Homo sapiens: one gene and its partners. The protein of the gene in region 1 purifies or fractionates together with the protein of each later gene. This does not show direct contact. Each region holds a gene or a part of one and is shown on either strand. Other genes may lie near its edges. The genes, in order: KIF6, MLLT10, HEATR5A and ACADS.

Region 1 (3,568 bases):
GAGTGAACTCAGATACTTCTTGTCATCCGTGGCTCCACTGATCCCAGGTGGATTGCTGGAAAGTCTTTTCAAAACATTGCATCAATTTCTCCCATTTGCAGAGGCCAGTGAACTCTGGGAAGGTGCACTGCTGTCAAGCATGTGTCCATATCAAAGGCTGGGCTTCCATTAGGGGATGTTCGGAGCAAAAGGCCCCTTGGCCAGTTGCTGCACACACTTTGCATATGCTCTGGACACCAGTGGCCCCAGATCCCATGTTGTGTGTTTTTCTGTCTTCATTTCCTTTCCTGTCTTAGTGATTGCCCCAGGAGGCTGGTTCACACCCCGCATGGGGCCATGCCACACATCTCTGTCAGTAAGGCCTTTGGATCCAGGAGATGATGTCTCAGTGGGAGATCTAATGTTGAAAGACTCTGGCAGGGTATGTGGCTCATGCCTGCAATCCCAGCACTTTGGGAGGCCAAGGCGGGAGCATCGCTTAAGGCCAGGAATTTGAGACCATCCTGAGCCACACAGTGAGACCCTGTCTCTACAAAAAATTTAAAACGAGCTAGGTGTGGTGGTGCATGCCTGTAGTTCCAGCTACTTTGGAGGCTGAGGTGAGAGGATCGCTTGAGCCCAGGAGTTGGAGGCTGAGTATGGCTTGAGCCCAGGAGTTGGAGGCTGACTAGTGAGGTATGGTCGCACCACTGCACCCCAGCCTGGCTGACAGAGACCCCCCCCATCTCAAAAAATAAATAAAAGAAAGTAAAAATAAAAGAAAATAAAAGTTAGTAGACTCTACCCAGCTCTAGAGGGCTGAGGGCACTAAGGCATGCCAAGAATACTGCTGCTGCTACATAGGGGACTGGGGCAAATGCCATGCCATCTTCAGGGCTCTTGAGAGTGTGTGTGTGTATGTGTGTGTGTGTGTGCAGTTACATGTGTGTTCCATGGACTCTTGGGGAGGCTTCTAGAATCAGAATTTGGTCTTCCTCTGGTTCTACAGACTTTACAGAGGGCTTACTATGTTCCATTGAACTGTGAGGGCCAGGAGTGGACCAGAGATGCTGGCCCCTGTCCCGATGGGATTCAGTCAGAGCCTGGGGGAAGTCAGAGTGACACCAGCCTGAGAAACACATCTGGGTTCTGGCTCGTCTACTCATGAACTGAAGGACCGTTTACTGAACAGCGACTCTGTGCTTGGGACACAGCAATGAGCAAGACAAACAGGTCCCTGTTGCATTGGAGCTCTTAGTATTATGGGGGGTTGCAGGTATTTCAAAAATAGGCAAGTTCGGAAGGATAACATGTCAGATAGTGATGCAGAAAAAATGGTAATGGGATAGGGGATAACTAGGGGGTGACTCGAGATGGAGTGGTCAGGGGAAGCCCCCTGAAGAGGGGACATTTGTCAGTGGCATAGAACAGCAAGCTGAATCTCCCCTTCACTCTGGCCTTCTAATTATATAAAATAGGGGTGTGGATTAGAGGAGCTCGATGGGCCTGCCTAGCTTAGAAATGTAATGGTTTAATCTTCTCCTGCATGATCCTGTTACCCAGTCCTAAAAAACGAAAAAGAAAATCAAGCCAATTATACTATATTACCACTCTGCTCCCCTCCAGGGTCATCAGGTCCTGTATTTATAGGACAGAGACACCAGGAGCAGTGGACCAGCACTTTTATCCAGTTAGCTTCATTTCCAGGTGCCACTCCTGCTCACCCTCCGCTGCCCCTCCCTGGCTGCAGCTGGGTTGGAACCCCCTGGCCCAGGGGGCAGTTCTTCAAGAACCTCCTTGAGGGCTGCCCACCTTCCCTTGGATCTGTCATGGAGAGGGCCCATGGAGACAAGACCCCCAGGCAGCTATGTTTTTCCCTGTGGAAGTGGGGAGTGTCAGCCCAAATCCTCCCAAGTGGCTGGGTGAAGGTTGTGAGGCCCAAGGTACCCACACTGCCCTCTCTCAAGCTCTCAGCAGAGCCCCTGGGAGCTGCCCACTGTTCTCTGGGTGCTATGATGTCCTTAGACCCTGCAGGGCAGATGGCTCCCTGGAGACACAGCTGTTCAGGCACTGCCTCCAGGTCATCCTGGCCAAGAGGCTGATGGTGAAAGATGTGGTCTGGGAGATCAGGATTGGCCTTCAGGATGCCCTGCATTCCACTGCCTTGCCTGTGGCTGGGACATCCTGCCTGGACCTGTCATGGCCATTTCTGGGCTTCCAAACCAGAGCACGGGCCAAGGGAGAGAGCTGGCAAATCGTTAAAAATAAAAATATTCCCCCCACATTCCACTGGTGTGAGCATCCTCTGACATTATATTTTGATGGTGCTATTTCACATTCTCAAAAGCTTATAAAGATCTACACAAAACGTCACTACAACAGTGAGCTGAAGCCTTCACCCTGCCCCTAGCACTCTGGCCTTGCCTGGCCCTGCCAGCAGCTCCAGCAACCACAGGAAGGATGTTGTGGTCAGCCCCAGCCCCAGCCTCTCGGTGGCCTCCAGGTCAGCATCCTTAAAGAAACACAGTCCCCTCCATGGGAATCAAAGTCACTAGTTGCTCCCAGCAGCCCATAGTTCACTTCTGAAGCCAGAGCAAGTGAGGGGCGCTGCCTTCATCTGTGCTTCATTCTTGCTGGCATAATTCATGGATGGATATTTCCTGGAAATTCAATTGCTTCCCAAACCTGAAAGGGAGACAGGATGCTTTTGGTTAGGCTGTGCATGCAGACACTGACTTTTCCCAGGATTGAATCGGGGGGAGGGGAGGCCACCAGCCACTCCCCCTGGGTCTTGGGCACTGCATCTGTGTCTTGCCTCCCAGGAGCTGCATTTATACCCCAAGCTCTGAAGGAAGAGGCCCCCTTTGCCCTTTGCAGAAGCTCCATCTCCCTAGGCTGAGACTGACGCCTGTTTTCCTACCCCACCGTTTTCTTTCCTTTTCTTTCTTTCTTTTTTTTGATGGAGTCTCGCTCTGTCACCGAGGCTGGAGTCTTGTCTTTTCCTTCCTTCCTTTCTTCTGTCCTTCCTTCCCTTCCTTCCCTTTCTTCCCTTTCTTCCCTTTCTCTTCTTTCTTTCTTTTTCTTTCTCTTTCTTCTCTTTCATTCTTTCTCTCTTTCTCTCCCCTTCTTTCCTTCCTTTCTTCCCTCCCTCCCTCCCTTCCTTCCTTTCTTTTCCTTCCTTCCTTTTTCTTTCTTTCTTTCTTTCTCTTTCCTTTCTTTCCTTCTTTCCTTTCTTTCTTCTTTCTTCTCTTTCTTTCTTTCTTTCCTCCTTCCTTCCTTCCTTTCTCTTTCTTTTCTTTCTTTCCTTCCTTCTTTCTTTCTTTCTTTCTTTCTTTCTTTCTTTCTTTCTTTCTTTCTTTCTTTCTTTCTTTCTTTTTCTTTCTTTTCTTTCCCTCCCTCCCTCCAGCCTCCCCTCCCTTCCCCTCTTCCTTCCTTCCTTCCTTCTTTCTTTTTCTTTCTTTTCTTTCTGGACGGAGTCTTGCTCTGTTACCCAGGCTGGAGTGCAGTGGCACAATCTCGGCTCACTGCAACCTCTGCCTCCGGGGTTCAAGTGATTCTCCTGCCTCAGCCTCCCAAGTATCTGGAATTA
Region 2 (3,568 bases), on another chromosome or scaffold:
GAAAATATACTTACTGCTACTTTCTGACTTGCATTATCTCCATGGATGGTGAGAAATGGGTTGGTGGTAGCTGTGTGAAGTGGGGGTGCCTGTGTACCTGCAAGAAGGTTGTTTATGGGTATTTGTGTTGGTCCAGGGATCTGCAGCTGCTGAAGTTCAGGTTGGTGGTGCTGCTGGTGGTGATGTTGCATTAACTGATACAAAAAGGCTTGATGTTGTTCCTTAGGCAAAAAACATGTGAGAGAAAATGAGTTCCCAAGCACGGAATTCAGCAGTCAGATGAGCTGCCTTATGTTTTCTTTCCTTTAATATTAGATATTTGCAAAGAAAGAAAACAAGTATCTCATCTAGAAAAATATGCTGCACTAGATAATAACCATCTACTATAAAATGTCAGTATCTTCAGCAAACAGCTTATTTTCAAAACAGGACACACATAGGAGAGCTCTATTAGGTTATCCGTGATGATCAATCAGGAAGTGCAGCAGCTTAAGAGAAATCAAGGTGGACATTTGAATGCATCATGCGTGGTCAAACCCTTTCCAAACTTAAAACAACCTTAAAGTTCCCGTTTCTGCCTGTCATTAGGGTGCTTTCTTGATGCAGTTACCACTCTACAGCAAGCATATACTCCATGCAGCGTATATTTATAGATTTCCTGAGTGCTTACTAGGTGCCAGGCACTGCTTTTGGTGCTTGAAACACATTGAGCAGGGAAAGGGAAATAAATGAAAACGTTAGAATGTGATTACTGCTCTGCGTCAAGGGAAACACAACTGTGTATGAGAAAGTCTGGAGGGAGTAGGGTTTAATGGTCAGGTTGTAATTTTAAGCAGATTACCCAGGGCAGTTTTCATTGGGAAGTTAACATCTGGATGAAGATTTGGAGGAGAAGAGGGAATTCGCTGGGTGGATATGGGGGCAGGTGAGGATTTCCAGGCAGTGCCAAAGGCCTCCAGAGGAGCAGGCCCAGCAGGATCCAGTGGCAGCAAGGACCCGGGAAGGGTGGAGGGAGCCAGGAGGAAGTGAGGAGAACACAGAGCTTGCAGTGGCAAGGCATGGCCACCTTGGCTTGTATTCATGGTAAAACGGGAAGGTTTTGAGAAGTGGCACAGTCTGATTTCAGGATGGAGTCAATGTGGGGTGTCAGAGTGAGGATGGAGCTGCCATCAGCTGAGGTGAGGAAAACGATGGGTGGGGCGGGGTTGTGCAGGAAGATCAGCTGTTCGGTTCTGGACACGTTATGTTTGAAATGTCTTTTAAGATATGCCAGCGGAGCTACTGAGTGAGCAGCTGCATTACAGGAGCTTGAAGCTCCAGAGAGAGGTCTGGCTGGAGATGTAAGTATCAGCACAGAGATGCTATTTACAGACAGTGATGAGAGATCACTGAATTCCACCTTGGGCACTCTCAGGCTGAAGAGGAGGACCCAGGAAAGGATGCTAAAAAGGAATGACCAGTTAGGTAGTAAGACACCAAGATGATGTGGTATCCTGGAAGCTAAGAGGAGGAAATGTTTCAAGGAGGAGGAAAAGCGATCAACTCTGTCTAATGCCGTTGCCAGGTGACGTTAAGATGAAGAATGAGAAGGGACCACTGGATTTAGCAAACATGCAAGTCATCTGGGGGAAGCAGAGTCAAGCAAGAGTGTCGAGCGGAAGCTGTGCGGAGGCTTCCAAAAAATCCTCACCTACGTTAAGTTTGATCCCTGTAAATGAACAAACTTTAGCCCACGACATTGGCAGATGAAGGAAAAAGTACAGTCCTTTAGTCCTCATGGTCTCCAAGCAATAATTTGTGCTGAAAATTCCTTAACCATGTTCTGGAAATGAGACAGCTACACATGCTATTATTAGAGTAAAATCTTGATTAATAGGAAGACACCCAAATAAATGGAGTTTTAGTGCTCATATTAAGATGAGGCAACTGGTAAGAAAAAACAAGATCCCATCTTAGTGTCAGCATTTAAGATTTTTTTTTTTTGAGACCGAGTCTCGCTCTAGTTGTCCAGGCTGGAGTGCGGTGGTGTGCTCTCGGCTCACTGCAACCTACACCTCCTGGTTCAAGCGATTCTCCTGCCTCAGCCTCCTGAGTAGCTGAGATTATACACACGCGCCACCACACCCGGCTAATTTTTGTATTTTTAGTAGAGACGGGGTTTCACCACGTTGGTCAGGCTTGTCCCGAACTCCTGACCTCGTGATCCGCCCACCTCCGTCTCCCAAAGTGCTGGGATTACAGGCATGAGCCACCACGCCCGGCCAGCATTTAAGAATTTATATACACTTACATGCAGTGTGCCTTTAACACCACTCTAAAAACAGACTGAAAATGATCCAGAATCAAAAGTATTTTCAATATATTTTTGACTGCAGCAAAATAGTACATAAATATACTTAGAAAGGATGTCAGCCTTTGTAATTTCTATGTTAATTAAGCAATGCATTCTCCAAGCAGCCCAACTGAATGAAGAGTGCTAGGGAAATGGGTCTGGAGGAAGCCCCACGACTGTCCACAGGGCCAGGCCTGCCCTGCACCTGAGCCACAATCCCACTTGGGTCTCGGTCCATACTTTCTCCCCTTCTACAAGTTCTCTATTTCCCATCTCCCCTCTTATCTAACCGTTAACACCCATCTCCTTCCCTCTGCTGATCACTTTACTTCTAATTAAGAAAATCAGAAGCACTGAAAGTGGGATTGCTTCAACCCTCCACATAAAACCCACCTCCAGTTGCTCTGCCTGCCTTGCTGGGGCAGTGAAATACCGTTCTCATCTCCTCCTCTGCTAGCACCTTTCTTCTCTCCTATCCCAGCAATGTCCCATCAACATACACACACGCTGTCACATTCAAAATGAGTCGAAACTGCCCCGTGTGCCCACCACATCTGCCTCCTGCTTCCCCTTCCTCTGCTTTCCAAAGTGACATGTCTTGAGGTGCCCATATGCTATCTTTACTTCCTCTCCCTCCCATTTCCTTTTGAACCATTTAATGAGGTTTTTACTTTCATCACACCCAAACTGTAAAAAGCCTCTAGACAACCTTTAAGAAAGAAACAGTCCCTGTCAGGTGCAGGTGTCACTGCACCCTCAACCTCCTGGGCTCCAGTGATCCTCCCACCTCAGCCTCCCAATTAACTGGAACCACAGGCATGCACCAGCACGCCCGGTTGGTCAATTCTTTCTTACCCTACCACAGAAGCATTTTACACAGTTGACTCCTCCCTTTCTGGAAACATTTCCTTCACCTTGCCCCTAAGATGCCACACTGTCCTTCTCTTGGCTCACTGGCCACAGTTTCTCAATAGCCTTTCTTTACTGGCTTATTCTCCTTTTCTAGGGTGTCCAGGACTCAGTCTTCATGCTCTAGGAGTCCGCATCAAATCTGATGGCTCTCATCACCTGTGCAGCACTAACCCCAGATTTCTAACTAACTGCATCTCTGCCTGGGACTCCAGACACCTACTGTGCAACTGCCTTATCTCCATTTGACTTGTACATCTAAAGAGATTTCAAGCTTAGTGTGTCCATGACACCTATTTTTCTCTCCAAAATTGGTTGGGTTCTGTT
Region 3 (3,568 bases), on another chromosome or scaffold:
GAAACAAAATTCAAACACCTTGCTTGCCTATGTTGTATTATCTAGGTTTCATTAAAATTTTTCTTTAGTTCTCTTCAAAATTCTTTGTACATTAAAACTGGGTTATTTATTCACTAGGTTTGTGTCATTTATTTGTCTGATTCTAAATTTACTCAGAAAATGACATTTTTTGGTAGCAATACAATTTGGAGAAGTTGAATATCATTATGAACTCATGAAATTTTATATATTATCTAGTATGTTTTAATTCACTGTAGTCATTATTAATTTTGATGTATAAATCATGCCATCTTTGATCAGTGGGAGCCCCTTAAGTTACCTCTTTTTAAAATGAACATAGTATTCCTTGATGACTTCCTTACTTTCTGGCATGACAAGATATCCCAAGTTTATGTTGTGCATTTCCTGCCCCAGACCTGAAACTAGCCATTGCTCCATAGAGTCCTGATTCCTTTTTGGTTGGAAACAGTATTTAGAGCTATAATCTGGGCACTAGGGGTATCCCTGACACTGGGTTATCATTGCTTTTAGGCCTTTTCACTGTACAAAAGGAGGATGTAAGTATTTTCAAAAAAATAAAATGAGTTCATACTGACAATTTCAATTTGAATCTAACGTATGGGACTTTTACTTAACTTCAATTCTACAGTTTTAGTTCTTTCTACTTATATTGAAAACCTTCGTTCCTAAGAACATTAATATAACTATTTGTCTACTTGATCTTAAGATATGTAAACTATTTTTAAAGTAATACCACAAATAATACCACTAACTAAATTATTAAATATTAAGCTTAGTTATTTAAGATTTCTTTTGCAGCTCTATTTATCCTCTAAAATAAAATTGTAAATGTACTTATATGGCAGGGCTAGATGTACAGCAAAATAAAGCATTCAGTAACAAATTCTGTTACTATGTGAAGATACTTCTAACAAAAAGCACCTCATTATCATACATAGAGAATGAAATCATTACCTTGCCTTTTCCATGAGGAATTCCTAAAGGACAATGTTTTACTGCTCCCAACAAAGCTGCTACAGCAAAACTGAAGCCAGTCACTGCTTCAGGTGAAGACTTATGTCCAGTAAGCCGTTCAAGGCAACGATCCAAGAGTGGTGTTAGGTAGGAGGGTAATGCCACGGCAATGCAGTGTAAACACCAAGCTGCTGCTAGTCGAACAGAAATGCTAGGATGAAGAATAACTGACAAGATACTGTCAAGGAGACCTGGAAGGATAAACAAATGATGACTTAGGTACATAGATAAAACTCACCTGACCATAAAATAGTCAAAAGAATACATAGCCACATGGATATAAAATATATTTTTATCAAAAGCCACATTATAATAGAAAAATACATAATTACAAATAATTTTCTTTTAACTTCATTTTTCTCCCTTCTCACCATTCCTATTCAAAATAATTTTCTAACCTAAGAATCACTTCTACTAATATATCTCATGAAAGTTGTCCTAAATTAAGTCCGCGCACAAAAGAAAAACTTTATTTCCTAAATAAGCCAATCTCTTATTTAGCTTCAGATCAATTATTAATTTGGTACTAAAAATTAAAAGTTATCAACAAATAACACCTTGAAAAGAAATGTCACACCCTGGCCAGCTGTGGTGGCTCACGCCTGTAATCCCAGCACTTTGGGAGGCCAAGGCAGGCAGACTGCCTGAGCTCAGGAGTTTGAGACCAGTCTGGGCAACATGACAAAGCCCTGTCTCTACCAAAAATGCAAAAAATTAGCCAGGCATGGTGATGCATGCCTGCTGTCCCAGCTACTAGGGAGGCTGAGGTGGGAGGATCGCTTGAGCCAGGGTGGCGGGACTTGCAGTGAGCCAAGATTGTGCCACTGTACTCCAACGTGGGTGACAGACTGAGACCCTGCCTTGAAAAAAAAAAAAAAGTCATACCCTGCCCCACCCTCTTTTTATTTTTTAATCCTTCTAGTACATTTATCTACATAATTCATATACTTTTTTTTTTTTTTTTGAGATAGCATCTTGCTCTGTCACCCAGGCTGGAATGCAGTGGTGCAATCTTGGTTCACTGCAACCTTCGCCTTCCGGGTTTAAGTGATCCTCTCGCCTCAGCCTCCTGAGCAGCTAGGATCCCAAGTGCGTGCCACTACACCTGGCTAATTTTTGTATTTTTAGTAGAGATGAGGTTTCACCATGTTGGCCAGGTTGGTCTTGAACTCCTGACCTCAGGTGATCCACTCACCTCACCTTCCCAAAGTGCTGGATTACAGGCATGAGCCACCATGCCCAGCCTACATAATTAATACACTTTCTATCCACCATGTTGCTCTTATAAGAATAAAACATTAAAATCAAGGCTTCACTAGGTCCTCAGTGGGCTACTAACCAACTAACTACAAAGACAGTGAAGTAACTGTCACCATCAATAAAAGAAAGGGTATTATTTGCTATGATTCAACATAAACTTTCATGAAACATGTAAGTTTCATGTCAAATGCTATTTAAGTAAGTGTCCCAGATCTAAATAGCTTATAAACACAAATATAATGTAAAGTTTCTCAGCAAGAAATGTGTGCCACGAAGGATAAAAGCCATAATGATATATTTTTTGAAACAGGGTCTCACTCTGTCACCCAGGATGGAATGCAGTGGCATGATAATAGCTCACTGTAGCCTCAGTCTCCTAGGCATAAGTGATGCTCCTGGCTCAGCCTCCCAAAGAGCTAGGACTACTACAAGTGCACACCACCATACCTGGCTAAGTTTTAAAAAATTTTTAGTAGAGAGGAGCTCTCACTATGTTGCCCAGGCTGGTCTTGAACTCAGCTCAAGCAATTCTCCCATTTTGGTCTCCTAAAGTGCTGGGATTACAGGCGTGAGCCACCATGCCAGGCCTAAAAAGTGATTTTTAAAAGTGATTTTTTAAAAAGAAGCAAGTCATTTATGACCATATATTGAATGATTTTTTTTTAACATGAAATATCCAGAATAGGTGGATTCATAGAGACAGAAAGTAAATTCATGGTCGTCAGGGGCTGCGGCAAAGGGAAATGGAAATGACAACTAATGGACTTCTTCCTGGGGTAATGAAAAGACTCTGGAATTAGACAGTGGTAGTGACTGTACAGTATAGCAAATATACTCAAAATCCCTGAATTGTATACCTTATAAGCGTAAACTTCATGGTAAGTGATTTATATCTTTTTTTGTTTTTTGAGACAAAGTCTCTTGTTGCCCAGGCTGGAGTGCAGTGGCGTTATCTTGGCTCACTTCAACTTCCACGTCTGGGGCTCAAGCGATTCTCGTGCCTCAGCCTCCCGAGTAGCTGGGAATACAGGCATGCGCCACCATGACGGGCTAATTTTTCTATTTTTAGTAGAGACGGGGTTTTGCCATGTTGGCCAGGCTGGTCTTGAACTCCTGACCTCAAGTGATATGCCTGCCTCAGCCTCCCAAAGTGCTGGATTATATGCATGAGCCACTGTGCCTAGCCATGAATTATATCTGAATAAAGCTATTATAAAGTGATTAAACACTTAAGAAAGAAAATACTGCTTTAAAGACCTTTGAGGAACTGAAT
Region 4 (3,568 bases), on another chromosome or scaffold:
GTCCGGCAGCCACCCCGTCCGGGAGGGAGGTTGGGGGCAGCCCCCGCCCGGCCAGCCGCCCCGTCCGGGAGGGAGGTGGGGGTCAGCCCCCGCCCGGCCAGCCGCCCCGTCCGGGAGGTGAGGGGCGCCTCTGCCCGGCCGCCCGTACTGGGAAGTGAGGAGCCCCTCTGCCCGGCCACCACCCCGTCTGGGAGGTGTACCCAACAGCTCATTGAGAACAGGCCATGATGACGATGGCAGTTTTGTGGAATAGAAAAGGGGGAAAGGTGGGGAAAAGATTGAGAAATCGGATGGTTGCTGTGTCTGTGTAGAAAGAAGTAGACATGGGAGACTTCATTTCGTTCTGTACTAAGAAAAATTCTTCTGCCTTGGGATGCTGTTGATCTATGACCTTACCCCCAACCCTGTGCTCTCTGAAACATGTGCTGTATCCACTCAGGGTTAAATGGATTAAGGGCGGTGCAAGATGTGCTTTGTTAAACAGATGCTTGAAGGCAGCATGCTCCTTAAGAGTCATCACCACTCCCTAATCTCAAGTACCCAGGGACACAAACACTGCGGAAGGCCGCAGGGTCCTCTGCCTAGGAAAACCAGAGACCTTTGTTCACTTGTTTATCTGCTGACCTTCCCTCCACTATTGTCCTATGACCCTGCCAAATCCCCCTCTGCGAGAAACACCCAAGAATGATCAATAAAAAAAATAAAATAAAATAAAATAAATACAAGAATTAGCCAGGCGTGATGGTGGGCGCCTATAATCCCAGCTACTTGGGAGGCTGAGACAGGAGAATCATTTGTACCCAGGAGGTGGAGGTTGCAGTGAGCCAAGATCGTGCCACTATACTCCAGCCTGGGCAACAGAGTGAGACTCCGCCTCAAAAAAAAAAAAAAAAACTATTTTATTAAGGAACACCTCTGCTGCTGGACAATACTCTACCAAGTGCTAGAAATACGCAGGTCTCCAGCTACTCAGGAGGAGGTTGAGGCAGGAGAATCACTTGAGCCCAGGCGTTCAAATCCAGCCTGGCCAACATGATGATACCCCTGTTTCTAAAAGAAAATTTTTTAATTAAAAAAATTTTAAAAAGAGGGTGTGGTAGCTCAGGCCTGTAATCCCAGCACTTTGGGAGACGGAGGTAGGAGGATCATCTGAGTCCAGGCGTTTGAGACCAGCTTCATCAACATGGCGAGACCCCCATCTCCACAAAAAGTTATAAAAATAAAAATAAATGAGCCAGGCATGGCGGTGCACACCTGTGGTCCCAGCTACTGCAGGAGGTGAGGCATGAGGATCACTTGAGCCCTGAGCCCGGGAGGTCAAGGCTGCAGTGAGCTGTGTTTGTGTCACTGCACTCCAGCCTGGGCGACAGTGAGGCCCTGTCTCAAAAAAACAAAAACAAAAATAAATATGCAGTTGTCCAAGACTCACGGTCAGGCCTAGGCATGAACCTCACCAAAAGCCTTTTTCTCTAGCTTACCAGCAAAACAGAATAAGGCTAAACTAGCTCAAGCCGCCTCACCCTCCAAGCACCTTCAGATCTCCCTGGACAGAGACACACCCTCCTTTTCACCCCGGAACTTGTTGGTATAAAACCCTGGAATAAATGGCACATGAGCCAATCGCTCCATAACTCCATCTCATCCCCAGAAACACAGTGGGAACCCAAATTCCCAGAAAGAGAGTAAAAGGATGAAACTCTCCTAGGTGCGTTCAGTTCCTCATACTCACCTAAAATGCTTGGTCACACGTCCCGACAGGTAGCAGAATGAGGGTGACCCCATATTCCTCTTACAGATGAGGGAATTCACACAGAAAGGGTATGTGGTGTCAGTGGCCAGGTCTAGGCCACCAGGAGGCAAGACAGAACCCCAGCCTCCTCCTCCCTACACAGCGCCGCCTCCCTCTGACTAATGCGACACTTCTCAATGAGCTAGAATCAAAAGTTGTAGGAATTCACAATTCCCACACCCAAAGGACCTCACTAGCATATACCATCGCCCTCAATTTTCCCCCAGCTCCTGTCTTCCCTCCTTTCTCACCATCAGCATTTTCTTTTACAGCATCTACCAGCTGGGCGCGGTGGCTCATGCCTGTAATCCCAGAACTTTGGGAGGCCCAGGCGGGCGGATAACAAAGTCAAGAGTTCGAGACCAGCCTGGCCAACATGGTGAAACCCCGTCTCTACTAAAAAGACAAAAATTAGCCGGGTGTGGTGGTGCGCACCTGTAGTTCCAGCTACTTGGGAGGCTGAGGCAGGAAAATTGCTTGAACCCAGGAGGCAAAGGCTACAGTGAGCCGAGATCGCACCACTGTACTCCAGCCTGGGGACAGAGCGAGACTCCATCACACACACACAAAAATAATTTAAAAAATAAAGCATCTACCTGTGGCTGTGAAAGACATGGCAGTTCCACTCACTCCCACTCTGGTGTTGAGACAGCAAATTTCAAAAGAGAGGAGCACCGCTCTGGGGCAGCACCTAAGAGCACAGCCTTCTCCATCCCATCCCAGAGCCTGGACACAGTCACCTCACCCCATTTTATCAGTGGTGACAGGGGCTGTTTCCCAGGCCTTCTCACTCTGAAATTTATCTCTAGATTTCAGGCAACAAACTGTGGCCAGCTACAGGAACATTCTAGAAAAAAAGTGGGGACAAAAGCAATAACCATGGTAATGTGCACTCGTTAAAGGGCCTCCTGAAAAAGAGACAGGGAGACCAGCACCGAGGGAAGGAAAAAGGGGTGGCAGGAGAGGGAAGAGACGAGACAGTCAAAAAGGAGAAACCCAAAATATAATTAAGCAGTGGCTCACACCTGTAATCCCAGCAGTTTGGGAGGCTGAGGCAGCCAGGTCACCTGAGGTCAGGAGTTCAAGACCAGCCTGGCCAACATGGTGAAACCCCATCTCTACTAAAAATACAAAAATTAGCCAGGCATGGTGGCGGGCACCTGTAGTACCAGCTACCTGGGAGGCTGAGGCAGGATAATCACTTGAACCTGGGAGACAGAGGCTGCAGTGAGCCAAGATCGCACCACTGCACTCCAGCCTGGGGGACAGAGTGAGACTCCATCTCAAAAAAAAAAAAAAAAAGAAAAAAGAAAAAGAGAAGCAGTCAAGGGAAAAAAATGGGTTCGGGTTTGTCCATCGTTTCTGACCTATGTAAATTGATGGTAATTAACTAACAGCAGCCAGGCGCCCGTCCCAGCCCCAATATTTTAGTATTTTCTACAGAGAGGCCTGACCTTCAGAGCTATCTCAAGGGGTGGCCTCCTAGAGCCCCCTGCAATGGTCACTCTTGGTTCCTAGTGTCTGTGACCCAGCAACCCTGACCTGCACCCTGAGAAGAGGCAACAGCACTGATGAGGCTGAGCCTGGTGGTCTCCAGACTCCCAAGAGAAACCGTAAGAAACTGTAAGACCCCTTTCCCAGCAGTGACAGACAAGGCAAGCCTGCAGCACCTGCTGCCTTCATATCTGGGAAACGGTTAGTGGGTCCCTCATATAAAAACAATGTTTTACGTCCCTTTTAAAACTCATTTTTAAGGCCGGGTGTGGTGGCTCACGCCTG

What was found.
Region 2: the proteins of KIF6 (region 1) and MLLT10 purify together in Homo sapiens (affinity purification with mass spectrometry; one large-scale study listed by BioGRID and IntAct). This does not show direct contact.
Region 3: the proteins of KIF6 (region 1) and HEATR5A purify together in Homo sapiens (affinity purification with mass spectrometry; 3 studies listed by BioGRID and IntAct, with this or other methods). This does not show direct contact.
Region 4: the proteins of KIF6 (region 1) and ACADS purify together in Homo sapiens (affinity purification with mass spectrometry; 2 studies listed by BioGRID and IntAct, with this or other methods). This does not show direct contact.

Annotation. Positions count from the first base shown.
Region 1 is NC_000006.12:39,333,885-39,337,452, forward strand, and holds part of KIF6 (kinesin-like protein KIF6), read right to left. Parts: intron 2,665-3,568; coding exon 2,648-2,664; 3' UTR 1-2,647.
Region 2 is NC_000010.11:21,736,683-21,740,250, reverse strand, and holds part of MLLT10 (protein AF-10), read right to left. Parts: intron 222-3,568; coding exon 15-221; intron 1-14. UniProt on the Homo sapiens protein: Probably involved in transcriptional regulation. In vitro or as fusion protein with KMT2A/MLL1 has transactivation activity. Binds to cruciform DNA.
Region 3 is NC_000014.9:31,382,546-31,386,113, forward strand, and holds part of HEATR5A (HEAT repeat-containing protein 5A), read right to left. Parts: intron 1,227-3,568; coding exon 976-1,226; intron 1-975.
Region 4 is NC_000012.12:120,728,782-120,732,349, reverse strand, and holds part of ACADS (short-chain specific acyl-CoA dehydrogenase, mitochondrial isoform 1 precursor), read right to left. Parts: intron 1-3,568. UniProt on the Homo sapiens protein: Short-chain specific acyl-CoA dehydrogenase is one of the acyl-CoA dehydrogenases that catalyze the first step of mitochondrial fatty acid beta-oxidation, an aerobic process breaking down fatty acids into acetyl-CoA and allowing the production of energy from fats.